Linked DNA regions of Homo sapiens. The protein of the gene in region 1 interacts with the protein of each later gene in a pairwise test. Each region holds a gene or a part of one and is shown on either strand. Other genes may lie near its edges. The genes, in order: ELAVL4, NETO2, EYA3 and ZNF232.

Evidence for each region.
Region 2: the proteins of ELAVL4 (region 1) and NETO2 interact in binary tests that used the Homo sapiens proteins (3 or more experiments, as listed by UniProt).
Region 3: the proteins of ELAVL4 (region 1) and EYA3 interact in binary tests that used the Homo sapiens proteins (3 or more experiments, as listed by UniProt).
Region 4: the proteins of ELAVL4 (region 1) and ZNF232 interact in binary tests that used the Homo sapiens proteins (3 or more experiments, as listed by UniProt).

The regions. Positions count from the first base shown.
Region 1 is NC_000001.11:50,139,908-50,146,931, forward strand, and holds part of ELAVL4 (ELAV-like protein 4), read left to right. Parts: intron 1-1,864; exon of another isoform or gene 1,865-1,945; coding exon of another isoform or gene 1,946-1,951; intron 1,952-5,049; coding exon 5,050-5,290; intron 5,291-7,024. UniProt on the Homo sapiens protein: RNA-binding protein that is involved in the post-transcriptional regulation of mRNAs. Plays a role in the regulation of mRNA stability, alternative splicing and translation.
Region 2 is NC_000016.10:47,077,946-47,084,969, reverse strand, and holds part of NETO2 (neuropilin and tolloid-like protein 2 isoform 1 precursor), read left to right. Parts: intron 1-1,168; coding exon 1,169-1,749; 3' UTR 1,750-7,024. UniProt on the Homo sapiens protein: Accessory subunit of neuronal kainate-sensitive glutamate receptors, GRIK2 and GRIK3.
Region 3 is NC_000001.11:28,085,601-28,093,219, reverse strand, and holds the start of EYA3 (protein phosphatase EYA3), read left to right. Parts: upstream 1-4,609; 5' UTR 4,610-4,696; intron 4,697-7,619. UniProt on the Homo sapiens protein: Tyrosine phosphatase that specifically dephosphorylates 'Tyr-142' of histone H2AX (H2AXY142ph). 'Tyr-142' phosphorylation of histone H2AX plays a central role in DNA repair and acts as a mark that distinguishes between apoptotic and repair responses to genotoxic stress.
Region 4 is NC_000017.11:5,108,858-5,116,450, forward strand, and holds the start of ZNF232 (zinc finger protein 232), read right to left. Parts: upstream 3,022-7,593; 5' UTR 2,966-3,021; coding exon 2,943-2,965; intron 2,363-2,942; exon of another isoform or gene 2,219-2,362; intron 1,012-2,218; coding exon 537-1,011; intron 196-536; coding exon 69-195; intron 1-68.

The DNA.
Region 1 (7,024 bases):
CATTCAAACCATCGACATTTACGATGACAGGATTTGAGTGCCTACGTTATTGTGCACCGCTCTAATAGTTTATCCCTGAAATTTTCTGCCTGTATAATGTTTCTTAAAATATATCACAGAAACATAAAAGATTTAATGTAGTGCTTTGTACATCCATTAGAGTTCGAAGTCAACTGAACCTCCTCAATGATCTATCCTGGATGCTGACTGTAATTCTGTTCTTAATTGCTATTCAAATGAGGAAAGGAGGGCAAGTCAGGGGCTTGGAACCTGGTCAGCTGCAAAGTTGGCTGTGAGACCCACACAGAATGTTTCATTAAAGTACATATGCACACTTGAGTAACTGATATATTTATTTGCAATGAAAATTGTGCTGTTAGAATATCAAAGGCGTTAGCCTGAGGAAGCAAGTGTTCTGATTTTGCCCAGCCAGCCTCTGTACTTACTGGAGGATGTGCTTTCTACCAACACACATCTTTTCTACTCCTGTTCTGTCCCTCTGTTTCCCAAGCAGAGAGAACAGGTGTCCTGTCTTTGAGGTCTATCATGTAACCTTAAAATGCTGTAGTTTCATATTCGTGCATTTAATATCTTTACATCTTGGCAACTTCTCTTATTTTCCAGGTAATGTTTTAAAATCCTCTTGTTTCATTCACATGTCAGATTTGATTCTGATGTTTTACATTTCTGATTTTTTTTTTCAGCCTGTGTTGCATCCTAAGATGCATCATTAAGACCTGTGAGGGGTCTTATTATAGGATGTATATTAACACATTTGCAAATGTTTCTCAGCTTTCAGACAGCACACTTTTATTGAGAAAACTCTCTTTGTATGTGTCCATTTGTGTGTTTTCATCAGTTCCTTCTGGATACACAAAAGAATAACTGTGTAGTGTAGATGCAGAGCAAAGAGAGCTCCATCTACATTGGATGAGAATGACTTGACCTAATTTATAGATGTGGTCAGCTAAAGTAGCTCAGTAGTGAGCATTGTATCTCATGGCTCCTTTTAGAAGCTAGTTGGGACCAGTTGGGCTGTCTAATCTACAGACAGGACTCACCTCCTGGAGTCAACATAGATTAGGAAATCCACATAGAATGCAAGGAAGGCCACAAAGCTGATGCGGGGACTGAAATTACTTTGCTGCAGCCTTGTTACTTCACAGGCCTTCCTGGAGGAGGTGGACCTGTGAGATGTTCACATGGACAAGTGCTGGCTTTCACCACGTGTCTGAAAACGAAAGATGAACCTGACTATCAGGTGACCTTTATGAGTTTTGGTCCCACAGAATCTCAACATGAAATTCTTCCACATACTCCATCACTAGCACCAAATAAGCTGCCTTGGTGTGGGATATTTTCTAGGTGTTTGTTGGGGAGCTGAAAGAAGGGTAACCTGAAAAAGGTAGAAAACAGAGAAGAGTTTCTAAAGATTGTGGGCCTGGGGGGTTTTTGCCATTAAATCGAATGTAGTAGTCCGGCCTCCTGAATGGATAAATTCTGATTTTCATGTTCATTATCGAGTTGGCAGTGCTTCTTATGTTTGTTGCCTGGACACCTGACTCAGTGAAGCAGTGAGACAACACAGCAAATGGAGGCACTGCAAAGACCCAGAAGGCCCCACAGCTTGGCAGAGCTGAAACCTGCCTCCTAGCCAGGAGTTGTGCTGATGCTCTGTAATGCCATCCCTTTAGCATGCCTCCTTCCCTGGGGACCATCTCCCTGATTCTTTTCCTGGACCCTTGCCTCGAAGGCAAAGTGGCTGAATAGGCTTTGCTGGGTACAACTTCTATCAGTCCTGAGGGGAGCTTGATTTAAGATTCTTCTCAGAAGCTTTTTGCTTTCTCCTTGCTGTCTGGACCAGCCTTCTAGAATCCTAAAGTTGACCTGAAGCCAAGAAGAAAATTCTGGTGATGGGAGAAGTGGAGCCACTTAAATTACTTACATGATGGTAAAGAATCTTAGATGCTCCCCATCTTTCTTAGTCTGCTTTATTTCCTTGGCTCCTCTTGAGCCATGTTTTCCTTTTTGTTTCATTTATCATTTGTGACCATCAGAAGATGAAAGAATTAGAATAACACTCACCTACGTGGGGCATGATGAGGAATAATAGTTATGATGCCTCTGGGCCCTTTGTATTTTAGACATTTAATGTACATTATCTCTCATCCTGAAGATAACCCTGCGTGGCAAGCTTTTTATTCCAGTTTTGCTGAAGAGGAAGCTGAGGCTCAGAGTATTGAAGTAACCTGCCTCAGATCACACAGCTAATAAGTGGTAAAACTAAGTTTTTTGTTTTTTTGTTTTTTGAGACGGAGTTTCACTCCTGTTGCCCAGGCTAGAGTGCAGTGGTGCAATCTTGGCTCACTGTACCCTCTACCTCCCAGGTTCAAGTGATTCTCCTGCCTCAGCCTCCCGAGTAGCTGGGATTACAGGTGTGCACCACCACACACACACAGCTAATTTTGTATTTTCAATAGAGACTGGGTTTCTCCATGTTGGTCAGGCTGGTCTTGAACTCCTGACCTCAGGTGATCTGCCCACCTCGGCCTCCCAAAGTGTTGGGATTACAGGTGTGAGCCACCGCACCTGGCCTAGAACTCAGATTTTAAATCACCTGTTGTCTTGACTCAAACACTCATTCCATTTTTACTATACCACTCTGCTTCAGATGAGAAAATAAACAAAAACAAAAACAAAAAATAGTCTCTGAACATTGATGAGGATGTGGAGCAACTGGAACTTTCATACTCTGCTGGTGGGAATATAAATGGATACAGCCACTTTGAAATACTGTTGGCAGTATCTACTGAAGCTAAATATACATACACCCTATGATCCCAAAAACAGAATCCTAGGACTATCCCCAATAGAAATATGTACATTTTTGTACCAAAATGTTGTACATAACGCTCATAGCAGCATTATCTATAGTAGTTCAAAATTAGAAACAATCCAAATGTTCATCAACAGATAAATAAAATGTAATATTTCCACACAATGGAAATTGCTATAGCAGTGGGAAGAACAATGCATTGTTACATGTAACAGAGCAGATGACACTCCATACATGTGTGAAAAGGCACAAAAGAGTATGTGTTGTATGAGTCCATGTATATAAAGGTAAAAAAATAGGTAAAACAAATCTGTGGACTAGAATTCAGAATAGTGGTTACCTTTGAGGGGTGAGGTAAATGACAGGGATGGAGAACCTGAGAAAGGCATTTGGGGTGCCAGTCATGTTCTGTATTGTGATCTGAAAGGTAATTACCCAGTTGTGAATTGTGTTCACTTTGTAAACATTCTTTGTGTTGTACCCTTAAGATTTATACACTTTATTACATGTATGTTATAGTAAATGAAAATGCTTCCCCCCTAAATCCTCTGAGCAGGCAAATGGTAATAATAATGGAAGCTACTAGTTATCAGATGTCTGCTATGCCTTGGTTTCCTCATCTATAAGACATAGAGAATATTAGAATATGCTTCATTGCCTTCTTGTGAGGAGACAGTGAGAGAAGTCACATTGGATGATTGGCAGAGTAACTAATAAACATCAGTGATTGTGGTTATGTGCCCACCACTGTTCTGGTGCTTTACATAAGTCATATCACTGGATCGGTTCTTACCGCTTTGCCATACGGTGGCATTGTTCCCATTTTTCAAATGAGGAAAATGAAGACTCTTAGGATTTAAGTCCCTTGCCAAGGTCACACAGCTAGTAAGTGGCAGAGTATGATTTCATTTCCAAGGAGTTGATGATCAGTTTCTGAGGAGATGGAAGCCATTTTATGATGGACAAATAGAGGACGGTGTAAGACAAAATGGAAAGTTGCGAATTATGGGCTGCGTTTGGGGCCAGGAAATCCGGGTGCAGGCCTGGACTTTGCCCCCATTTTTCTATGATAACAGAGAAGTAACTGGACATCTCTGGGCTTCATCTCGAATGTGAGTGTTGAGCTAGATTTTGTTCCCTTATGTGCCTTCTGGCTCTGCAATTTTGCAATTCTCCATGTTTGTCATTCCATACAGGGCATCTTCATGACCTGACTTCATGAGCTTAAACTCATTTTTCATATAAAACCCTATTCCAGCATTTTCTCAGAACTGTCCCTAAATCTCCCTATCCTATAAGCAGAAGTAATTGCTTCTGTATTGCATGATCACTGCCCTATACCAGCTGTTTACCTGTCTGTGTCCTCTATAGACTATAAGCTCCCTGAGGATAGGGATTCATTCATTTCTTTATTCTCATACGTGCTACCTGGAACATTCACACCAGCCAGAAATCTTTGTTTAATTAAATATTTTAATCAAGAGAAAGTCCTTTTTGAGTAATATGTGAGTGGACAGCCTCAGGCGGTGCTGGACCTAACGTGGAGACCTAGAGAAAAGTTTGCCTCCATGTTTTTTGTTTTATTAGAGGTCTGGGAGAAACAATAACAGAATGGCTAGATTAAAAAAAAAAAGACATTAGATGACTTTGCAGCTCCCTAGAATGTACCTGTAAAATCTAAAATTTGATCAGTGATTAAGCATCAGTGAAAATTTAAACCCTTCCCATATTGAACAACCCCACTTAATTTAATGTCATTTTATTTTATGAGATAGTTAATAAACAGGTACTGTATTTGATCTTGTGAGTGTAGTCCTCTATATTTAGCTTTTTCAGCTTTAATGGAACTATAATTTTAATCATGATTATTACTTTACATTTTAATTATAATTTGGTGTGGCTTAAGTATACATTTCTGAGAGTGATTGTGTAATGAAAACAGGAATTAGCTTTTCATTAACAAAATAATGGGAGAGTTCCTACTGCATTCTAGTCTGTGTTCAAAATCTATGGGCTGGCCTAAAAATAGAAAGAGGAGTTTAACATTTTGGTTAAAAACATGCTTCTAAATTGGCTGTGTTCACAACCCAGTCTCTTGCTCCATCTTGCTTTATCTTCTTCTCTTTCTTTTCAAAAAAATTAATAAACTTTTAAAAGAGACTTTGTGTCTGAGATTTCAAAAGGCTTTTTCAATTGTTTTTATTTTTATTTAGATAATTAGCACCATGGAGCCTCAGGTGTCAAATGGTCCGACATCCAATACAAGCAATGGACCCTCCAGCAACAACAGAAACTGTCCTTCTCCCATGCAAACAGGGGCAACCACAGATGACAGCAAAACCAACCTCATCGTCAACTATTTACCCCAGAATATGACCCAAGAAGAATTCAGGAGTCTCTTCGGGAGCATTGGTGAAATAGAATCCTGCAAACTTGTGAGAGACAAAATTACAGGTATGCACAGGATTTGAAGCTATGTTGTTCCATTAGATGTGCAGATCTTAGCAGAAATGCACATGTGTGATGGTGCACCTGAATGTCTATATCATGTACCCTGCATGCAAGATGGCATGGATACACAGTCATAAACTCACACTACATACACCACATAAGACCTTATTGTAGATTGGTACTGCTGGGGAGCAGATGAAGATTTTGGTACATCTTCATCTTCATGTAAAATGATCCTTTGATTTTGTCTCCTTTTATTCTTAATCAGCCATTCCTTCCCTTTGTTCTATAGTTTCCAGTCCCACAACTCTGCCCTCCCTATACTATACACTAGTTTTTGCTCATGTATTCTCCTCCTCTCAATATTTGCTTCATGTGTGCCCAGTGTTCTTCCATGTGCCTGAAACAAGTGTTTTAAAGGGGGCCACTGTGGATGTGTGGACAGTTGACACAACTGCCCTTGTCCCTGGGGAGAAACAGGCCCTAAGGATAGCAGATTATTCTGGAATACAACTACTCTGCAGTAGGAGGGAAATGCTTAATGAAGATCTGCATTTGAGGTATTTTGTTTTATTTTATCTGTCTGTTCGTTTTGAAGATACTCTTTGAGATGTGAGGGCATTTTTACTTGAAAGTGAATCAACACCCTATACAACTTCAATACATGAGATTTTTAGGTTCTGATTTTCTCCTAATTGACAACTGTTCATTGAGAACCAAATGTTTGCCAGACACTGACACTATAATTCTTTGGGGGAAAGTTTCCCTATAATCTTATTGGCAGTGAGAATATTTTCTTGGAATATATTAGGCTACATAATGATGGCAGTGAAGCTGCTACTCTCTGATACTCCACTCCTGAAATCATTCATATCCAACTTTGAATACTTGTCAGTTTTGAGTATTGACTTTTGTTTCCCTTTCCCTAGACAGTTTAATTAATCAGCAACTGTCCTAGAGTTTTTTTTTTTTTAAAAAGGAAGCTGCATCATTAAAATAGGGATATACATCATCTTTATTTTAAATCAGAGAATACATTCTATATGTGTGTGTGTAGATATATACATTCTTCTGTTCTCATAATTCACATGTAAATCTGTTCCCCTTATAAATTAAGTAGTTTGCAAAATCATAAAACTTAAATACCACTGCTACTTTCCAAAATACAAGTCACCTAACACTCCAGACATAATTTTCTTATTTGAAAAACTGGAAGATAATGCTTGTCTCAAAGGGCTTATTGTGAGGATTAAATGAGAGACTAGATATATTGCATCTAGCACAATGTCTACTGCACAGTGGTCCCTCAGTAAATAAATCTATTATTGTAAGTACAGCTAGTATGCTTCAAGGAAAGTGGCCAGAACAGAAAAAAAAGTATCTATCAAATTCTCCAAATAGGGCCAGGCTTTGATTATCTTGTACCAGAGCACTGGAACATCTATCCTTAAACAGAATTTCCCATACGTTCAGAAAGCCAATATTTAGATTCCTGAATAATCTTTATATAATAGGATGATAATTCAAACCAAATTAAAACCAGTTAACCATATGATTCTTCCTCCTACTCCTATATAGAAAATGTATTTTTAGTATAGCCTTACCTTCAAAATACAGACTCTGCCAGCTATATTAGTGAATATTATTAATCACCTTTTCAGAATTCCTTCAGAACTGTAGCGAGATTTTTGAGAAGTACTGATTCATGGTGTTGTTCCTTGTTTTCTAAAGACACAT
Region 2 (7,024 bases), on another chromosome or scaffold:
TGGGGCAGGGGGGTTGGTTTCAGGATGATTTAAGCGCGTTACATTTATTGGGCACTTTATTATTATTACATTGTAATATATAATAAAATAATCATACAACTCACCATAATGCAGAATCAGTGGGAGCCCTGAGCTTGTTTTCCTTCAACTAGACAGTCCCATCTGGGGGTGATGAGAGACAGTGACAGATCATCAGGCATTAGATTCTCCTAAGGAGCTCACAGCCTATATCCCTCACATGCACTTGGGCTTCTGTCATACTGAATGGGAAAATAATAAGCTGCCTCACTTCTTGACTTTCATATGTTTTGTTTGTTTCTTTACACTGAAATACTTAATACTACTCTATTGGACTTCTGCCTCCAAGCCAGGAGTTTATTTCCTAACAGAAGTAAGCACACTAATAATAATCCATTATTGTTATCCATAATAGGGCTCCTGCTGCTGTGAGAATCTAATGCCACTGCTGATCTGACAGGAGGCAGTGCTGCGGGTAATGCGAGTGATGGGGAGCAGCAGCAGATACAGATGCAGCTTCACTCGCTCACTCGCAGCTCACCTCCTGCAGTGATACCCAGTTCCTGTCTGTGGCCCAGGGGTTGAGGACCCCTGCTGTAAGAGTTCAATAAATATCTTACTGTGGAAAGGTGATCTAATCTGATATGGCTGTCGTAAATACTCGACATGAAGTGTTTTCAGTTAATCATTCAAAAACAGTAGGTCATGATAATATACTGGATGGGTTAGTCTGATGATGTTAGTTTGCTCTCCCTGGGGTCATCAGTAGATGCGGGTATACCTGAACACAGCAGTTGGTCAAACCTACCATAAAGCAGAAAGCTAAACTTGATAGAACAAGAGTATTTATTTGGCATAGTCTATATTTGTATATTTGATTTGATTTGCAGAATGTATGCATTTATGTGTCTTCTGAAGAAACGGACCAAGAACTTTATCTTCTGTAATCTATCAGTACTGCGATTGGTAACTTTAACCAGAAATTATAATAGGGTTGTTTTATTTGTTTAAAAACCTAATTGTAAATTGCATTGTCTGTAGTATATTTGGCCCAAGTATTCTGTTTTACCTAAAAATACCTTACTAATTTGTACCAGGATTCATATTAATGTATTTTGAAAACTTAACGTTTCTCATTTTCTTTCTGCAGAAAAGAAAAAAGCAGGAGTATTTGAACAAATCACTAAGACTCATGGAACAATTATTGGCATTACTTCAGGGATTGTCTTGGTCCTTCTCATTATTTCTATTTTAGTACAAGTGAAACAGCCTCGAAAAAAGGTCATGGCTTGCAAAACCGCTTTTAATAAAACCGGGTTCCAAGAAGTGTTTGATCCTCCTCATTATGAACTGTTTTCACTAAGGGACAAAGAGATTTCTGCAGACCTGGCAGACTTGTCGGAAGAATTGGACAACTACCAGAAGATGCGGCGCTCCTCCACCGCCTCCCGCTGCATCCACGACCACCACTGTGGGTCGCAGGCCTCCAGCGTCAAACAAAGCAGGACCAACCTCAGTTCCATGGAACTTCCTTTCCGAAATGACTTTGCACAACCACAGCCAATGAAAACATTTAATAGCACCTTCAAGAAAAGTAGTTACACTTTCAAACAGGGACATGAGTGCCCTGAGCAGGCCCTGGAAGACCGAGTAATGGAGGAGATTCCCTGTGAAATTTATGTCAGGGGGCGAGAAGATTCTGCACAAGCATCCATATCCATTGACTTCTAATCTTCTGCTAATGGTGATGTGAATTCTTAGGGTGTGTACGTACGCAGCCTCCAGGGCACCATACTGTTTCCAGCAGCCAACCCTTTTCTCCCATCACAACTACGAAGACCTTGATTTACCGTTAACCTATTGTATGGTGATGTTTTTATTCTCTCAGGCAGTCTATATATGTTAAACCAATCAAGGAACTTACTCTATTCAGTGGAAACAATAATCATCTCTATTGCTTGGTGTCATTTATAGGAAGCACTGCCAGTTAAAGAGCATTAGAAGAGGTGGTTGGATGGAGCCAGGCTCAGGCTGCCTCTTCGTTTTAGCAACAAGAAGACTGCTCTTGACTGATAACAGCTCTGTCAATATTTTGATGCCACAATAAACTTGATTTTTCTTTACATTCCTTTTATTTTTCCTTTCTCTAAATTTAATTTGTTTTATAAGCCTATCGTTTTACCATTTCATTTTCTTACATAAGTACAAGTGGTTAATGTACCACATACTTCAGTATAGGCATTTGTTCTTGAGTGTGTCAAAATACAGCTAGTTACTGTGCCAATTAAGACCCAGTTGTATTTCACCCATCTGTTTCTTCTTGGCTAATCTCTGTACTTCTGCCTTTTAATTACTGGGCCCTTATTCCTTATTTTCTGTGAGAAATAATAGATGATATGATTTATTACCTTTCAATTATATTTTTCTCAGTTATACTAGAAAATTTCATAATCCTGGGATATATGTACCATTGTCAGCTATGACTAAAAATTTGAAAAAGATAAAAATTTCTAGCAAGCCTTTGAAGTTTACCAAGTATAGTCACATTCAGTGACAGCCCATTCATTCCAGTAAAGAATCATTTCATTCACTTTGGGAGAGGCCTATAATTACATTTATTTGCAATGTTTCTCTTCGCTAGATTGTTACATAGCTCCCATTCTGTTGGTTTTGCTTACAGCATATGGTAACCAAGGTTAGATGCCAGTTAAAATTCCTTAGAAATTGGATGAGCCTTGAGATTGCTTCTTAACTGGGACATGACATTTTTCTAGCTCTTATCAAGAATAACAACTTCCACTTTTTTTTAAACTGCACTTTTGACTTTTTTTATGGTATAAAAACAATAATTTATAAACATAAAAGCTCATTGTGTTTTTTAGACTTTTGATATTATTTGATACTGTACAAACTTTATTAAATCAAGATGAAAGACCTACAGGACAGATTCCTTTCAGTGTTCACATCAGTGGCTTTGTATGCAAATATGCTGTGTTGGACCTGGACGCTATAACTTATTGTAAAGACCTTGGAAATGTGGACATAAGCTCTTTCTTTCCTTTTGTTACTGTATTTAGTTTGTGATAAATTTTTCACTGTGTGATATTTATGCTCTAAATCACTACACAAATCCCATATTAAAATATACATTGTACCTGACCCTTTAATCATGTTATTTATGCCACCAAGGTTGTGGATCTTAAGGTATGTATGGAAAGGAACTCATTTATCAAATTGTAAGTAATACAGACATGCCATTTAAAAGAGGTAAATTCTTGTTTTCTATATTTTGTTAGTAAATTCTCAATGAAATAAGTTGAAGTTTCACTGGATTTCATTAACTTTTAAATATTACATATATGTGTTTTCTCAGATTAGTGAAAATTGTGACCTTAAATTTAATACACATATACTGCCTCAGAGTGCTTTCTTGTATCAAAATTTTTGTTTTTTAAAAAAGTAGATAATATTTAGGAGACAGAAAAACCTATACATAATGTATTCATGATTTAAATTTTTTTAAGTCAGCCTAGTTTCTTGTTTTAAAAATATAACGTGGAAACATGAAAAGACTTGATGCATATAATATTCAATGAACTAATACCAGAGACAGCTAAGTTTTTTCAGTAGTTATGCTGAATAAGCATTTTAGTAGGTAACTTACACCAGCTAACATTTGAACAGCATAATAAATACTTAATATAACAACAACTATGATCTTATGATGATAAAAGGGAAGTTAGCATATTTTCTATGTAAAATTATTCATTTTTTAAAATAGCTGTTAAACCTATATTTAATCTTTAGATTATAATAGCAAATAATACAGTATGCTAAACTATAGTCACTTGTAACTACATTTTTGTTTTTGAAATTTGATTTCTATTTATAAGGTCTTGAAGAGGCCTACAAAATACAGAGCCTTTAAAGAAGACATAACAGTAAAATAGAAGTACACAGTTTTATACGAGTCAATGTAGCAAGTAACATTTAGACAGTAAGTTTGGTTCTGAATTTTCTGGCTGCTAAAACACTTTTTGCTTTTCACAGTAAAAAAACTTATGTGCAGAGGCTAATTTCCTCTTGAACTACAGCATGAGGGTCTGTATATAGGAACATTTCTTCAGAATGTAAAAAAGATGCAAAATGGAGACAGAGGTTATAATGGTGCTTCTTAACCCAGTGAAGGCACAACTTAATGTCGTCTAGGAACATTGGTTTAGGGTCAGTCTGTATTTTCAGGGATAGAACTAAAGAACCAGATGATCAATAGCTAAGCCAGCCTTAGCCTGTCACATGTTATACACCTTCATTGAATCATAGATGGGCATTAGATCTCATTTATTTATTAAACTTCTCTATGCTTTTGGAAGAGGTAAGAATGGAACTAATAAATCTTAGGCATTATTGCCAGAATAATGCTAATTGCTGTATATACAGCCTTTAATCTTTGAGATCAGTGAGAAAACTTTATAAATTGCTTACTAAAATGAAAGCCATAAAATTTAATAACAGAAGACATGAAATTTAGCAATCTTGTGGAATTCATTACACAGTATTAACTGTCACGCAGGGTACCCCACACAGTGTCCCAGTGTTGAACACAAAATGCAAATCTGGAAGGGATAAATATCTTCAATTCAGAAACAGCATTAAGTATACCTGTATAATACTGTCACCATTATCTTCCATCTGCAATTCACCGCATCATCCCCCAAATGCCCACAGATCTATTGCAGGAAACCTACTAATCCCAACATCTAAAGCATGTAGGAATAAGATGTGATATTCCTTTTGTGTGTGGGGAGAGTGTCAATCTAAACGTTTAACAAAAGGCAAAGAATGTTCACATTTCACATCACAAAAGAGATTTCAAAGACTCCTTTAACCCGACAGCGCTTATGTCAGTGTCTTTGTCATGTTTCATAGAATTGTTAGACTTTAAAAGAACCTCCTGAAAGTCTGCCTCTGAACATTTGTATGGTTCTGCCAATGTCTGATGAGAAGAATGCTTCCCTGTTTGAGGAGTGTGTTCACTGATGAGAGGGGACGGGAGAAGCCTGGTTGTGATTTCAGGAATAATTCTCAAAGGAGATTATACTCTTATTGCAAAATGGGGTCTGCTATATATTGTTCATGTCACTTTATTGCAAGTGACATGAATTATATGACATTAAAAATAATATGCCTTGAATCACACTGATTAGACCCAGAAGGATCATTGAGTTTTTGGTGGTTTTAAAGATCCAAGAAAGACCTATCTAGCCCAAGTGTATGAATGAGAAGACTGAAGCCCACAGAAGTGAACTCAGCACCAGTGTCTCAAGAACCCCAGTACTCTGGTTTTTTTCTTTTTTGAGACGGAGTCTCGCTCTGTCGCCCAGGCTGGAGTGCAGTGGCGCGATCTCGGCTCACTGCAAGCTCCGCCTCCCGGGTTCACGCTATTCTCCTGCCTCAGTCTCCCAAGTAGCTGGGACTACAGGCGCCCGACACCATGCCCGGCTAATTTCTTGTATTTTTAGTAGAGACGGGGTTTCACCGTGTTAGCCAGGATAGTCTCAATCTCCTGACCTCGTGATCCACCCGCCTCGGCCTCCCAAAGTGCTGGGATTACAGGCGTGAGCCACCGCGCCTGGCCTTCTGTTTTTGTTTTTCTGTTTTTTTGTTTTTTGAGACAGAGTCTCGCTCTGTCACCCAGGCTAGAGTGCAGTGGCGTGATCTCGGCTCACTGCAAGCTCCGCCTCCCGGGTTCATGCCATTCTCCTGTCTCAGCCTCTCGAGTAGCTGGGACTACAGGCGCCCGCCACCATGCCCGGCTAATTTTTTGTATTTTTAGTAGAGACGGGGTTTCACCATGTTAGCCAGGATGGTCTCGATCTCCTGACCTCGTGATCCGCCCGCCTCGGCCTCCCAAAGTGCTGGGATTACAGGAGTGAGCCAAGGCGCCCAGCCCAGCTGTACGTTTTAAAAGTCAAGCACTTCTGTTTAGCAGCCCATGTAAGCTTGTCAATCATTCTGAATTGAAATGTAATTTATTCTGTAATTTCTTCAATGCATTATATTTCCCCTTTTCTTTAAATGTATGTAACATTGTGTTCTACAGTTTTGCTGCCATGATTCCTTGGCACCGTGAATTCTTACTAAGCAATGTTTGTTAACAGTATACAGGCTCGATACTAGGCAGGAAGAGCTCCTGTGTTCTTGCTTTTTTGATCTTTTTTAAATCTAAAGGAGACGTGTATTCTAGAAATTAAATATTTGTGTGCCATATCTCTTGAGTTTTGGAGAATGATTGGAGTTTGAGTTACTGTAAATAACAAGATTATCTTGGATATTTTAGTTTTCTGCAAAATCACTTATGTTTTATATACCTCTGCTAATAATTCAAAACTCTGAATTTGCTTTACTTTAACTTTTTAAAAATGTATTTTTGCAATTGGTTTAATGACTACCAAAGCCTAAAAAGCTAATGACTAGGGTGCATGTTTAGTATGCACTGTCTAGTGTAAGCTTTTTAAAAGCAGTAGATTTTTATTAGAGATGAACTTCCAGGCCATATGAGAATATGCTTAATCCTAGATTTGGCATTTTATAGAAAAGAATTTTGACTCTTGAACTAGAATTAAAAACTTGTTCTGATTTCCTTGCTTGCCTCAATTTCTAAAGTCTAGAAGTGGCAAATAATTTAGATCACTTATACCAACAGAATCTGTATTTCCTTCCGGGGCAAAGTTGGCATTTCCTATCCACTAGCTTCCAAAATACAATAATCCTAGTTATGATAAGGGCAACTTTATTTTATTACACTTAGAACCATTTTATGTTTTCAAATTCATTAATCTTCAAGTGAAGATGAACTAAAGAAAAAAATGCGTTTTGTCCCAGGTTGCCTGCAGGTTGCAGTCTGCTGCATCCGGTCACTGAAGAGGCAGTGAGGACTGTCACAGAGTGGGCTGGAGAGCCAAGCTGTTCTTTCGGGGTGCACAGTGCACCAGCCATAACACAG
Region 3 (7,619 bases), about 22 Mb from region 1:
TCGATTCTCCTACCTCAGCCTCCTGAGTAGCTGGGACTACAGGCGCACACCACCATGCCCAGCTAATTTTTGTATTTTTAATAGAAACAAGGTTTCACCATGTTGGCCAGGATGGTCTCGATCTCTTGACCTCGTGATCCACCCGCCTCAGCATCCCAAAGTGCTGGGATTACAGGCATGAGCCACTGCACCCAGACAGAATTTCCTGCCTTTTTAAGGTTGCATAGTATTCCATTGTATGTATACCAAATTTGTTTATACATTCATCCATCAATGAACATTTGGGTTGCTTCCATCTCTTAGCTATTGTGAATAGTGCTGTCATGAACATGGGTGTGCAAATATCTCTTGGAGATCCTGCTTTCAATTCTTAGGGATATATACCCAGAAGGGGATTCCTGGATCATACGTTAGTTCTATTTTCAATTTTTTTCAGGAACCACCATATGGCTTTCCATAAGGTTGCACCATTTTACAATCCTACCAACTACTGATTGCTTTTAGAAGGTCAACGATCATGTATATCATAAGAAATTGCCTCAAGTACAATATAGAACATCAACAGAAATAAAATCCAGACCATTGTACTTCATATATGTCAATCAGGAGGGTTTAAATTAATAGCTATTATAAAACACTGATCATACATTCATCATGTCTTTTCAAAATGGAAATATATAAATTAGAGGTCTTATTTTTATTATTTTATTTTATTTTATATATTTGTTTATTTTTCGAGATGGAGTCTCTCACTCTGTCACCCAGGCTGGAGTGCAGTGGTGCCATCTCGGCTTACTGCACGCTCTGCCTCCTGTGATTCTCATGCCTCAGCCTGCTAAGTAGCTGGGACTACAGGTGCCTGCCACCACACCTGGCTAATTTTTGTATGTTTTGTAGAGATGAGGTTTCACCATATTGGCCAGGCTGATCTTGAACTCCTGACCTCAGGTGATCTGCCTGCCTCGGCCTCCCAAAGTGCTAGGATTACAGATGGGAGCCACCGTGCCCGGCCTTTGGATTTTATTATTATTATTATTATTATTATTATTATTATTTTTGAGACAGAGTCTCACTCTGTAGCTCAGGCTGGAGTGCAGTGGCACGATCTCAGCTCACTGCAACCTCCGTCTCCCAGGTCCTGGTTCAAGCAATTCTCTTGCCTCAGCCTCTCGAGAAGCTGGGATTACAGGCACATGCCACCATGCCCAGCTAATTTTTGTATTTTTAGTAGAGACGGGGTTTCACCATGTTGGCCAGGATGGTCTCGATCTCTTGACATCATGATCCACCTGCCTCGGCCTCCCAAAGTGCTGGGATTATAGGCGTGAGCCACCACGCCCAGCCTGGATTTTATTCTTAAATGACTGTAAAGACACTAGAGCACCAGCAAGGTACAGCTTCTGCTCTGGGGAGGAATTTGCATGCTTTCTTGTAGCTCTGTTTTAGAATCATAGCTGTCACATAATGATATTTTGGTAAATGATAGAATGCATATATGATGGTGGTCCCATAAGATTATTTAATATTTTTACTGTACCTTTTCTATGTTTTTATATGTTTAAATACACAAATACTTGCCATTGTGTTACAATTGCCTACAGTATTCAGTACAGTCATATGCTATACAGATTTATAGCCTAGGAGCAATAGGTTATACCATATAGCTTAGGTGTGTATAAGTCCATTTTACGATGTTCGCACAATGATGAAACTACCTAACGAGGGATTTCTCAGAACATATTCCTGTCCTTAAACAGAGTGTATATGTATGTAAATGCTTTAGGCATAACTTTTCTGGAGCTATTGCATTGATTACTCATGGGCTCCCTCTGGTGGAGGTGGTGGCTCAGTTTGCAGGGTTTCAGATCAGGAAAACCAAAGTAAATGAGCAATTTAGCCCTTCATTCAACAAACATTTACTGAGTGCCTACAGTGTGCCAGGCTCCATTCTGGTGCTGAAAAAACATCCGTGAACAAATCGGACAAACATCCATGGACTCATGGAACTTACATTCTGGCAGGGGGAGAGAGACACTAAGCCAAATTTACAAGCAACTTGTTGGATGGGAAAGTACAAAGAGGATGGTAGTGTTCCAATTTTTAATGTAGTGTCAGGGAAGATCTCATTGAGAAAGTGACATGTGAATAAAGATGTAAATGAGGTGAGCGGATGAATGATGCAGGTATCTGGGGGAAGAGCACTCCAGGCAGATGGATTAAAAAGCACAAAGGCCCTGGGCCTACCTGTAGTTTTGAGGAATGGCAGAGGCCAATGTGCTTTAAGGGGAAGGATGACAGAAGGAGTAGGAGTTGAGGTTAGAGCAGAGCTGTACTGGAGGTGTCAAATCTTGAGGGTCCTGTAGACCAATGTAAGGATTTTGGTTTTTACTCTGAAATAGGAATGCATTGGAGGAAGGATATGATCTAATTAGGGTTTTAACAGGAGCCCATTGCTACTATATTAATAGATTGTGGGGGCCGGGCGTGGAGGCTCACACCTGTAATCCCAGCACTTTGGGAGGCTGAGGCGGGTGGATCACTTGAGGCCAGGAGTTCAAGACCAGTCTGGCCAACATGGCAAAACCCCGTCTCTACTAAAAATATAACAATTAGCCGCGCGTGCTGGCGGGCCCCTGTAATCCCAGCTATTCAGGAGGCTGAGGCAGGAGAACCCAGGAGGCAGAGGTTGCACTGAGCCAAGATCAGGCCAGTACACTCCAGCCTGGGTGACAGAGGGAGGCTCTGTCTGAAAAAAAAAAAAAAAAAAAGATTGTGGGAAGGCAAGAGTATAAATAGGGCACTCACAGTCACTGACTGACTGGTTTATACCAACGGAGGCAGTAAATGGTCAGGTTCTGGACAGATTTTGAAGGCAAATCTTGCAGAACTTGCTGATGGAGTACATGTGGGATATGAGAGAGGAGTTAAGGATCTTAGTAAATGATGTTGCTTAGTACATTGTTGTCATCGGAAGAGGTGATCAAATATACAGTCAAAAAATGTAGAAAAAATAGTTTTTTTTCTGGATTTTGTTATTCGTGGTATTTGTGAGCTAATAAAAATGTTTGTAATTTTTCTCATTATAAAAGGTTCACTTTTATATCTAATATTGTATTTGTAATTTTGGATTTTTTTTTTTTTTAGACAGTCTCGCTCTGTTGCCCAGGCTGGAGTGCAGTGGCATAATCATAACTCACCGCAGCCTCTACCTCCTGGGCTCAGTTAGGTGCGTGCCACCACACCTGGCTAATTTTTCTGGGTTTTTTTTGTTGTTGTTTTGCTTTGTTTGTTTTGTAGAGACAGGGTCTAATTTTGTTGCCCAGGTGATCTCCAACTCCGGGGCTCAAGCAACCGGTCGACCTCGGCGTCCCAAAGTGCTAGGATTTCAGGCATGAGCCACTGTGCCTGGCCTTGATTATTTTAAAGAGGGCCCCCAAATTGAATAAACGTCAAGTCTCCACAAAGCCTGAATTCAACCTTGCTTCTAGCCCATACTTGGGTTGTAATTTAAAATTAACGAAACATTTAAGAATTTTGCTTCCGAAAACAGTGTGCACGAAGTGAATTGTAAGCCTAATATAATATTAAGAATAAACTAAATTTGGGGATAAAAAGATCACCTTGGGGCTCACGCCTGTAATCCCAGCACTTTGGGAGGCCAAGGGATCAACCGAGCTCCAGAGTTGGAGACCAGCCTGGGCAACATGGCGAAACCCCGTCTCTACCGAAAAATACAAAAATTAGCCGGGCGTGGTGGTGCGCGCCGGTAGTCTTAGCTACTCGGGAGGCTGAGGTGGGAGGATCACTTGAACCCAGGAGGCGGGGGTTGCAGTGAGCCGAGATCGCGCCACTGCACTCCAGCCTGGGCGACAGAGCAAGACTCTGTCTCAAAAAAAGAAAAAAAAAAAGGGATGGGCGCGGTGGCTCACGCCTGTAATCTCAGCACTTTGGGAGGCCCAGGCGGGCGGATCACCTGAGGTCGGGAGTTCAAGACCAGCCTGACCAACATGGAGAAACCCCGTCTCTACTAAAACTACAAAATTAGCCGGGCGTGGTGGCACATGCCTGTAATCCCAGCTACTCGAAAGGCTGAGGCAGGAGGATCGCTTGAACCCGGGAGGCGGAGGTTGCAGTGAGCCGAGATCGCGCCATTGCACTCCAGCCTGGGCAACAAGAGCGAAACTCCGTCTCAAAAAAAAAAAAAAAAAAAGATCACCTTGGGCTAGCCTCCCAAATGTCTTCCAAAACTTCCCACTCATTCTCCTTCCCAGTTTTTCTAAATCTACCAAATGCACCCAACACTTCTTACGTTCCTTTTAGCCAGGTAGGGATTACGCGCATTTTTAAAGACCTCCTTAAAAGTGAAGGCTGTAGTACCGTCAGGACTGCCTAGCGCTCACCCAGAAGCTGCTTGTCTCCGAGGCACTAAGAGGGGCGTGGCCATGGGCGTGGCTCGCCGGGCCGGCGGAGTGGGCGGAGCCTAAAAGCTTCCCCGCCCGGTCAGACTCAACACATGCGCCCAGAGGTTTCTAGTGGAACGAGGTGTGGATTGTGAGGTGACTCTGGCCGCTTACTTCCGGTTCCTAGCGATGCGCATCCGGGTCACGCTAACGCCGCGGTTTCCTCCGCTCGATTGGTTCTACTGTGGGTCTGGACTGATCTCCATGTCCTGTTGTGGGGCTTTTACAGCCTTTGGGTGAGTCTCAGCTGCCAACAGGGTCTGAGCGCAGCCGGGCGAGCACAGCGTGAAGGGGGATGGGTCTAGAGTTCTGCCTCGGTCCTTGTGGGTGGGAGTCTCTTCGCCTGTCCCTTGTCACTGCAGTGCTTCACTCACCTCAGCCCTTTCCTTCACGCTGGCCTCGCCTTATTCACCTCAGCTTAGCCTTCTCGCGCTTCCGTGCCTCTGTCGCCTCGCTGTTTTTCCTCAGCCTCATCAGTCCTTTTCCAACCTCGGTTTCTTGCCTTACGCCTCAGCGCTTCTCTCAGCCACTGCCTCTCCTTTTTTCTCCTCCTCCCTTCTTTTAGAACCTCTTTTCCCCTACCCCTGATCTGGGATCTCAGCGTTCTTTCACCTAGCGAGACGGCCCAGCTTCTCATTGTGCTCACTCTTCACCACGAGAAACTGAGCCTCTCCCTAGGGTCCTAGTTCCTTGTCCCCCAACTTTCTTCAGCTTTGATCCTTCCTCCTGGGACCAGTAGGTGACAGTGCTTCTCCTGGGGTTCTTCTGCCTGTCCTTAGCTAGAGGAGAGCTTTGCCAAAGCCCCGAAATGGGAAGACTTCCCCAGCCTGGGGGAAGTTTTGCCTTAAGGCGCCGGGTTAGACTGAACTCTGGTAGCTTCCATAGTTAGGGTACAACAAAGGCGTTCCTAGTTCTTCGCTTTACCTCAGTTTTGGGGCTCTCTCAAGAGCAGCTAACAGGTGGCAGGCACACGGTACTGCTAGCAGTTGGGCTGGCGCGATCTTGTTAATTGACAAGTCATGAAGAAGTTCTGTCAGTTTTGTGTTCCCATGAGAATGGATGTGCACAGCTGAGGCAAAAACGCCAATATTTTGGGACGTTCAGCTCTGTTTTCGGCATGGACGCTTCTTACAGGACACTTGTGATGATAGAGGACAGAATTTGTGGAGAGATCATTAGCCCCAGATTTATGAATTTATTGTGTTGTTTCCGAAAAGTGGTCTGCTGAAGAGTTCACTATAGTAATTTCAAAGTAATCTTTAAACTTAGTATGCACATATGCATTTTTTCATTTTTACTGTATTAAGTTTTCTATTTGTCTTCCTCTTCCTTCATTAGCCAGACTTTACTTAGAATTACATTACTTAGAAGTACATTACTTAGAATATTCTTCTAACTTTTGTATTTTTTTTTCCTTACCATTTCCACCTTTGTAGTAAAACTATCATTTTCTCATTTTGAGATTTAGGGCACCTTTCTTAAATTTCCCTAGAGGTTTAAAGTCATTTATAACATGAAGGAATTGCATTTAATAATGGTTAGTGCTCCCTTTCCCAAATTTTGTGATCTAGAGTATAGGCTTGGGTAATCTTTATTTTTTCCCGATGTTTATAGTGTATATCTAGCACTTGATTGCAGCGGTTTTTGTGTCATCAGTTTCTGTAATCTATAAATTGTGCTTTAAAATGTAGTACTTCAGTATGAACTTAAATACAGCTTTGAGCACCTGCTTATCTTTTGGCTAATTAGCTATAGAAAAATCTTCATTATATGATACATATACATATAAGAGTGTATAGTCCTTGGCTTATTCCAAAATTGGGCTCTCTTCAGCTGTTTTTAGCAAAGGACTTTGGAGCTTGGCCATGTTAGTCCTAGAAGCCACGGAGAAGGACCCTTCTGATTGGCTTTCAGGACTTATCTAACTGCTAAGTGAAGCCTCTTTGAAAGTTTCTTATGTGTACCTCCTCCCCACTACCTAGCTCTAGCTTCTGTCCAACCTGGCCTATTTTCCATCCTTCAAAACAAACCCCAATGTGTATGGCTTACTCCAGCTGCTTCCTTACCTTCAGGTTTGTGGGCTTCATTTAAGCCATGGGAATGCCAGCTTAATTAATGCAGATTAAGATAAGAACATTAAACCCCAAAAATGATGGGAAATCACTCTGTCTTCAAAACAATAGAAAATAATAAAATCTAGTTATAAAGATTATATACCATTGTCACTAGTAAGAAGTGGCACTCTTATTTACAAAACATAAAGAAATTAGGGTTTAGGTCTGGCATGGTGGTTCACACCTATAATCCCCAGCACTTTGGAAGGCCAAGGCCAGAGGATTGGCCAGGAGTTCGAGACCAACCTGGGCAACATAGACAAAATTAGCTTGGTGTAGTGGTGTGCGCCTGTAGTCCCAACTACTCAGGAGGTTGAGGTTGGAGGATTGCTTGAGCCCAAGATTTTGAGGTTACAGTGAGCTGTGATCACATCACTGCGCTCCACAAGGCAACAGAGTGAGACTCTCTTAAAAAAAAAAAAGAAATTACAACTTAAACAGTTAATTTCCAAGGTCATTTTTTTTTAAGTCAAGAAGTCCTATACATGCTCTCAAGAGTAGCGAGTGTTAATTCCATTAAAGCTGTAGGCTGGAAAGCACAATATAGTATTTAGTGGGTCATTTCAGTATATGTCATATATGAATGAGACTATTAGGATAAGAAATCTGTGACATGGATTTTAAAATCCAAAGCCGAAGTCATTTTGCCTTCAAAGAGTGACTAGAGAAAGAAACTGTTTTGTGCAGAAGTAGAAGTTGAAAAGTTTTAGGAGTCTTTTGTTCTTCTAAAATGACTTTGGCCTGTATATTCTGCATTGAAGCCATTAAATGAAATGAGCATCCTGTGTAGTCATTGGAGCAGTTGTGTTCCATGCTGCTGATCTTCAAGCCTGACCCTCCACCTAGCTGCCAAACCAAAACAAACAAACAAACAAACAAACAAACCCAGAGACAGCTTAATGTGTGTTTGTTTTTAAAGCTCAGGAAAAAAAATTACCGTTGATTTTCTACAAAAATTTCTACTTTAGTTGGTAGCCCTAAGGGCTCAATTTAAAATATGTTTCTGCATATTAGTTTTAGGCTTACCAAGTTTTCTTATTTTGGT
Region 4 (7,593 bases), on another chromosome or scaffold:
GTACTAGGTACTGTGCCCTTTATAGTCCCTCTTTCTCCTCTCCCTCCCCACAGAATCCTGCTCCTCACCACTCTTTGGGAAAGGCTGGGTCTCCTTAGGCTGGAGCTGGATGCTCAGTGCTTCCTGGGCTGCTCCCAGAGATTCCTTCTTCTCCCATGGCTCTTCCTGTGCAGGTCCATGTGCAGGGCCTGGGACCTGGAGGTGATCAGGCACCACTCAGTTTAAATTTTCTTCAAATTACTAGTGTGGTTTCTGTCCCCTGCCTGGACACTTGCAGATGTGACCCTCCTTGGACCAAAGCTTCCAAGGAGACTTTAGAGAGCCTCCTCAGAGTCAGCACAAGGGAAGAAGAGGAGCTAGAGTCTCTTTCTCATTCAGGGCTCGAGGGCAGAAAAGACAGACACAGAAACACATACTAACTGCTCTACCTGGCCCAAGAGAGGTTTGAACTTGGCACCTCCCCCTACAGCTGCCCCTCGGTCCAGCCTGAAGGTCATCAATCTGGCTCCCATAACAGACCAAATCCCCCTTCCCACCTGCGGCTCTGGTTCAAGTCCTTTCTCTAAATCCTCCAGCACAGTCACAGCCTCCTCTCCACTCTTAGGGTGATGTCCCCGCACCCAGGATTGGAGCTCCTCAGGCAGGATGGTCAAGAATTGTTCCAGCACCAGGAACTCCAGGATCTGCTCCTTCGTGTGTTTCTCTGGCCTCAGCCACTCACAGCAGAGTACTCGTAGTTGGCTCAAGGCCTCCCGGGGACCAGGAGTCTCCTGGTAGCGGAGATGCCTGAAGCGTTGGCGGAAGATCTCTTGACTGGTAGAGTGGTTCCCAGGTAGCCTGGTCTCATACTCACAAGACTGTTCCTCTTCCTTTGGTCCCATCATCATCATCTTCTCTTGTCCCTGTGTACCCTGAAGGGCCAGAGTTTCAGCTGCTGTTAGTGATACAGCCATCCTAGTCTGCACTAGCTCTGCAGAAGGCTCATACCAGCTGGAATCTTGCAAGGGCCCCCTGTAACATAAGAAGAAATCATTCCTCTTTTTTTTTTTTAAGACAGAGTCTTTCTCTGTTACCCAGGCTGGAGTGCAGTGACATGATCTCAGCTCACTGCAACCTCCACCCCCGGGGTTCTAGCGATTCTCCTACCTCAGCCTCCCAAGTAGCTGGGATTACAGGCGCCTGCCACCACATCCAGCTAATTTTTTTGTATTTTTAGTAGGGACGGGGTTTTGCCATATTGGCCAGGCTGGTCTTGAACTCCTGACCTCAGGTGACCCACCCACCTCGGCCTCCCAAAGTGGTAGGATTACAGGCATGAGCCACCGCGCCCGTCCTCCTCTTCTTTTTTCATTCATTAAACATATACATATACTCAACACTCCAAAGAGCCAAACCCTGTCCTATGCCCTGTAGTCCCGCTTTTTCTTCCACCCCTCCCCAGAATTCTGCTGCACTAAGTCAATGTTTTTGAGAAACTTGCACCGTGGTAGAAACGGGGATGTAAAGTGGTTTTCTATAATACAACTAATTAAATGCCATTGACAGGAAAAATGTATCAAGAAAAAAAAAGTTCTGGGGGCCTATGGGAAGAAATGACTATTGGAAGAAATAAGTTTGAAGCAAAACCCAAGTTTCCAGATGCAGAGCCCAGAGCCGAGCAGCTTTCAGTGCAAGGTGGAATGTGTTGGGGAGGCAGCCTCCTCTGAGATGGCTCCTCCCTGCTTTCAAAAATTTCTGAAGTAGTAGCTACAGCAAAAGAAAAATATAAGTCCCCTTTAAGGAGCTGGATCTCATTCAAATGCCAAAGCCCTATTAAGGGGCAGCTATGAACAAGTCTCGGGTACAGTGGCCTGCGTCAAGGAAATCTAACAGGTGTAAACCAAAAAAGCATCTGAGATAGGTCTCAACCAATTTAGGGGTTATTTTGCTAAGGTTGAGGATGCACCCAGGAAAAAGACACACAAGCCACAGTAGGATCCGTGGCTCGCACTTTTACCAAAGAGGGTTTTGAGGGCTTCAATTTAATGGGGAGAAAGCTGGCAGGAGGGGAAGGAGGAGAGAAGAGGGAGGGTATGTGGTGAGGTAAGTGGCCACATTCTTGTGAGGATTTGATTAGAGCTCACTGAATCCACATGTTGCACGTGAAAAGAGGAAGTCAATTATGAATTTGTCTCGTGCTCAGTAAATCTGCATTTTACACAAGATAAGGTAGACATACAGTAGAGGAAGAAGTCAAATATGCTTTGTCTCTGGGTGGGTGGAGGAACGATTTCTAGTCTTGTCCGGTGAAGCTCGGCTGTTCGTTTCCATTGCCAGGGTGAGGGAGGCCACCTGGGGGCATATGTTGCTTTCTATCTTGCAGCTATCGGTTTAGGAACAAAAGGAAAAGCAGTTTTTTTCCGTGACTCAGTTTCCAAGCTTAACTTTTCCCTTTGTCATAGTAAGTTTGGGGTCCTGAGATTTTATTTTCCTTTCACACAGGGAAGGAGGTGGAACGCATCAGAGGCCACGAAAGGAGCACAAAGGGGGACCGCTGGCCTAAGACAAAGGAGGCGCGAGGAAAAACGCGGAGCTCGCGTCTCCCAGGGTGATGCCCGGCGCCGCTGGCCCCAGCAAAACTTCTCTACCCCGGCCTCGGGCAGGTGCCCGCCCGGGGAGGGGGCTGTCGTCCAGGCCAGGTACAACTCCCCTTCCCACCCTTCACTCCCTACCCAAGGGTCTCGAGAAAAGAGAAGAGGAACATCAAGACCCCCCTCCACGGCACGTGACGCGACGCAACGCAGGTAGCGCAGCGCGGGCACCACGGGCAACCCAAACCCCTCTCCACACACAACCGCGGAGCTGCCTGCCAGGCCTGCTCACTGCAGAGCCGCCGCTGCCTGCGGGACGGGCAAAAGCCAAGCCGCCAGGTGGACCTCGGGGAAGCCGCCGCCAACACTCACCTCACAGGACCAGGAGGTTCCATCGGGGCGCTGCCGCGAATCGCGCCACTTACAGCCCTCACCCCAGGGGCAGGTTTGCGCCTGCGCAGGTCGCAGCCTCGGCCTCCAACTCCCAGAATCCTCCTCGCCGCCGGCTTCCGTTCGCGGACTTTGGCCCAGGCGCGTGGGCGCTGCCGAGAGGCTGGGAGCCCGGGAACCGGTTCCTGGACTTGAGCGGAGCGAGAAAGAGCGCGCCGCCTGCACGACTGGACTGGAGCGGCCGGGTGCCCTGGAGGCCCCTGGGAATTGCAGTCCTTGCGCAGGTGGAGAGTGAGCCCTTGTAAGCGGGTGACTTCATCAAGTTTGGGGGGTCTCTTGTGGAATTGTACCTGAAGGGCGGTGCTGGCGGACAGATGTCAGGGAAATTCTGGCCTTGTCCATGGCCTGTGGTAACACTTCTCCATGAGTTCTATTTTCCAATTACCTCTTCCCAGACCTGATGAGAGGGCCACAGCTAAGGAAGACGGTCCCTTCCACGAAAAAATATTCCCCAACCACTAGCCTGTACAATTCCTGGGGCGTAGGGGGAGGGGAGGAGAAAAAAGAATTCTAAGGTTAATTTTATTGCGATGGGGGAAATAGGGGTTGGTGTTTTTTTGTTGTTGTTATTTTTTATTTTATTTATTTATTTGAGACGGAGTCTTGCTCTGTCGCCCAGGCTGGAGTGCAGTGGCGCGATCTTGGCTCACTGCAAGCTCCGCCTCCCGGGTTCACGCCATTCTCCTGCCTCAGCCTCCTGAGTAGCTGGGACTAGAGGCGCCCGCCACCACGCCCGGCTAATTTTTTTTTTTTGGTAGGAGACACGGCGTTTCACCATATTAGCCAGGATGGTCTCGATCTCCTGACCTCGTGATCCGCCCGTCTCGGCCTCCCAAAGTGCTGGGTTTACAGGCGCCCGGCCGATTATTTTTTATTTTTTTTTTGAGACATGGTGGCCAACATGGTGAAACCCTGTCTCTATTAAAAATACAAAAAGGTTAGCTGGGCGTGGTGGCGGGCGCCTGTAGTCCCCACTACTCAGGAGGCAGGAGAATCGTTTGAACCCGGGAGGCAGAGGTTGCAATAAGCTGAGATTGTGCCACTGCACTCTAGCCTGGGCGACAGAGTGAGACTCCGTCTCAAAAAAAAAATTAATTAAAAATAAATTTATCTCACTATCAATTTTGCAGGATATTGATTGATCCAGTCTCTCAATACTTTTATAAAATAGCTTAATCCTAGTCTCTCCAAGAAAAATTGTTGTTCAACTGTGTAGTACCATAGTAACAGTTCTCAGATTCTCAGATTATTAAATTTGTTTCTCCAAGATATAGTATCCTTGAAAATGCGCATTGACACCCCCATGGCTGGGGGATATATTATCTTTTTTCCTTCAAAGTGCCATTGATAATTACTGCACGTAGGAGCTATGGATAAAAATAGTTATCATTTGTTGAATGTCTACTACGTGTCTAGAACTATGCCAGGAACTTAATGAAATTGTCTTATTTAGTCTTCACAGTTGCTCCACAAGGGATTGTATTAATGTCATTATCTTGATTTTACAGATGAGAAAACTCAAGACTCAGAAACAATAAAGGTTACAGAGATGAAATTGACAGAGCCTGAATTTCAGTATGTCAAACTTCAATGTGCCATTATACTTTTAAATCCTACAGAACAGATTGAATCACAACTTCTACTTTTACATGAGAGAAGACAATGGGTCCTATGACTTACTGTCAGTTTCCTTTTCCTGATTTAATTAGCTGCTTCTGTATCTAATTTTGCTAGGAATGGAGGAATAAGGCAAATTCCCTAAACTACATATTGACATTTATACTAATGTGAAAACCTCAAGTCCATTTGCAGACTTTTGGATTAGATTCTGTCCCAGAAAGACATCCACCCTAGAGTTCAGGATATCATACCCATTTTACTGTTCCCCTGGCACAATTCATAGTAAGGAAAAACAGACAAGGGGAAAGCTATTAGATTCTCGGTGCTGCTAAACAGGACACACAAGGACACCATTTTGTGATGATGATGGTGCTTTATGCAGCTTCCACCATTTACAAGATTTTCCTGTGGTGTGGAACCTCTCATGATAAAGCAAAGGAACTAGAAGCTTATTCCAGTCAAGATTTCTGATTTATCTTGTGGTAAGCATTTGGGAAGGACATATCTGCACATGACCTGAGACTAAGTACTATACACTGAATCAGATGAAAATTGCTCTTAGGAAGCTTACAATTTTCCAAATAGTTAGGACAAAAACAAACTCTCCTTCTCTCTTCCTATATGTACATACTGACATCTTTATCATTACTGTCTTCCTAGGGTTATGATTCTGTATGGTTTCTTTGGTGCTGCATTAGACCTGAGCTCTGATTGAAAATTCTTCCACGCTCGCTACATTCCAAAACTTTATCTCCAATATGAATTTCCAGATGCCTCACAAGGTCTGAGCTCCATCTGAAGGCTTTCCCATGCTTGTCACATTCATAGGGCTTTTCTCCACTATGAATTCTATGATGTCGAATAAAGTGTGAGCTCTGATTACAAGTCTTTGAACATTCATTGCATTCACAAAGTTTCTTTCCACTGTGAATTCTTTGATGCTGAATAAGTTGTGAGCTCCCCTTCAAATCTTTCCCACACCCAATGCATTTATAAGGCCTCTCTCTCACCTTGTATGGATTCTCTGATGTTCTGTAAGGACTGAGTTCTGGCCAGGCGCAGTGGCTCACGCCTGTAATCCCAGCACTTTGGGAAACCGAGGCGGGTGGATCAGCTGGGCTCAGGAGTTCGAGACCAGCCTGGCCAGCATGGTGAAAGCCCCTCTCTACTAAAAATACAAAAATTAGCCGGGTGTGGTGGTGGGTGCCTGTAATCCCAGCTAATTGGGAGGCTGGGGCTGGAGAATTACTTGAACCTGGGAGGTGGAGGTTGCAGTGAGCCGAGATCGGGCCACTGCACTCCAGCCTGGCAGCAGTGTGAGACTCCGTCCCAAAAAATAACAAACAAACAAAAAAGACACCAGAGGGCTTTGGGTCCCTCTCTCTCTGCCATGTGAGGACCCTGTGAGAAGGCAGCCAGGGAGCTCTCACCAGAACCTGACCATGTTGGGCCCTGGTCACAGCCTTGCAGCCTCCAAAACTGAGAAAATAAATTTCTGTTGTCTGGCATCCAGTCTATGGTATTTTGTTACGGCAGCCCGAGCTAAGACAGAGGAAAACTGGGGGCTGATGTGACGGCGGGGACTTTAGGTAGAAGGACCCCACGTCAAAAGTCAAAGCTAAAAATTCTGGAACGAGCCAGGAAGGCATCAGGACGTCTCATTTTATTTGCTAGAGGCATCTTTTGGGGGGTGGGGCGGTGGGTGGGTGGAAGGAGATGTGGCCAGTGAGCCTCTGACTTTTAATTGAGTTATTTCGAAACAAGGAACAGAGGGCCGGATGTGGTGGGTCGTGCCTGTAATTCCAGCACTTTGCGAGGCCGAGGCCAGTGGATCACCTGAGGTCAGGAGTTCAAGACCAGCCTGGCCAACATGGTGAAACCCTCTCTCTACTAAAAATACAAAATTAGCCTGGCGTGGTGGGGGGCGCCTGTAATCCCAGCTACTCGGGAGGCTGAGGCGGGACAACAGCTTTAACCCGGGAGGCGGAGGTTACAGTGAGCCGAGATGGCGCCACTGCACTCCGGCTTGGGCAACAGAGCAAGACTCCGTCTCCAAAAACACACACACACACACACACAAAACCCAAAACGGAACAGAGGCAGTTCTGTATTCCAGAGGGATTGATTTGTGATGCCTGCTCAAAACTCAAGAAGCCACCACCCTGATACTCATCAAACCCCGGAGAAATTTCGTTTTTAGAGTGTCAGAAGGCCCCATGAATAACCTTCCAGTCACTGAGGGAGGTCCCTACTCAGCACGCCCCGGTCTCCTTCACTCTCCTGCACTCGTGCCTCACAGATGGCCTCATGCGCGGACTGGCGGTCCAGCCTCCCGGGGACACAGCCCGGGCGCACCCCGCGCCGCCTTTGGCCACTGAGGCGGTCCTCGAGGCGCCGGGCTAGGGAAAGCCTCCCCGGCCGTCAAGGCTGGGATAGCGCCGGGGGATCGGGGCGGGGTGCGTGCGCCGAAAGGGCCTCAAAGCTGTAGGGCTGGACGGCACAAAGGGGCGCAAGGCACGGAGGCCAGGCAGAGGGGACAGCTAGCGGCGCGGCGGGACGGGCGGGCCCCGACGCCCAGCTCCAAATGCGTGGCCGCTGTGGGAGCTCGTCTCCAGGCGCCCATCAGTCTTCCCCTCACTCGACGCTACCTTGGCGGCCGCGCCCATGCTGTCCCCGCTCCAACTAGCAGTCAGGAGGGGCCGCGGGCAGCGCTCGAGACGCTCATTGAGAGGACTTCCCGCCTGCGGGCTCTCTGCTCGACGCCACTCCCGGCCCCGCTCCGGGCGGCCCCCCTCACCACTCCCGGCCCCGCTCCCGGCGGCCCGCCTCACCACTCCCGGCTTCCCGGGGCTTAGGCCCGCACCATCGAGTCGAACCGAGTCCTCATGTTTTCCTAGACAAGCCGCTGGGGGAGAGGGGAAACACTTCTGGCCCATGTGAGCCGCCGTCTCGT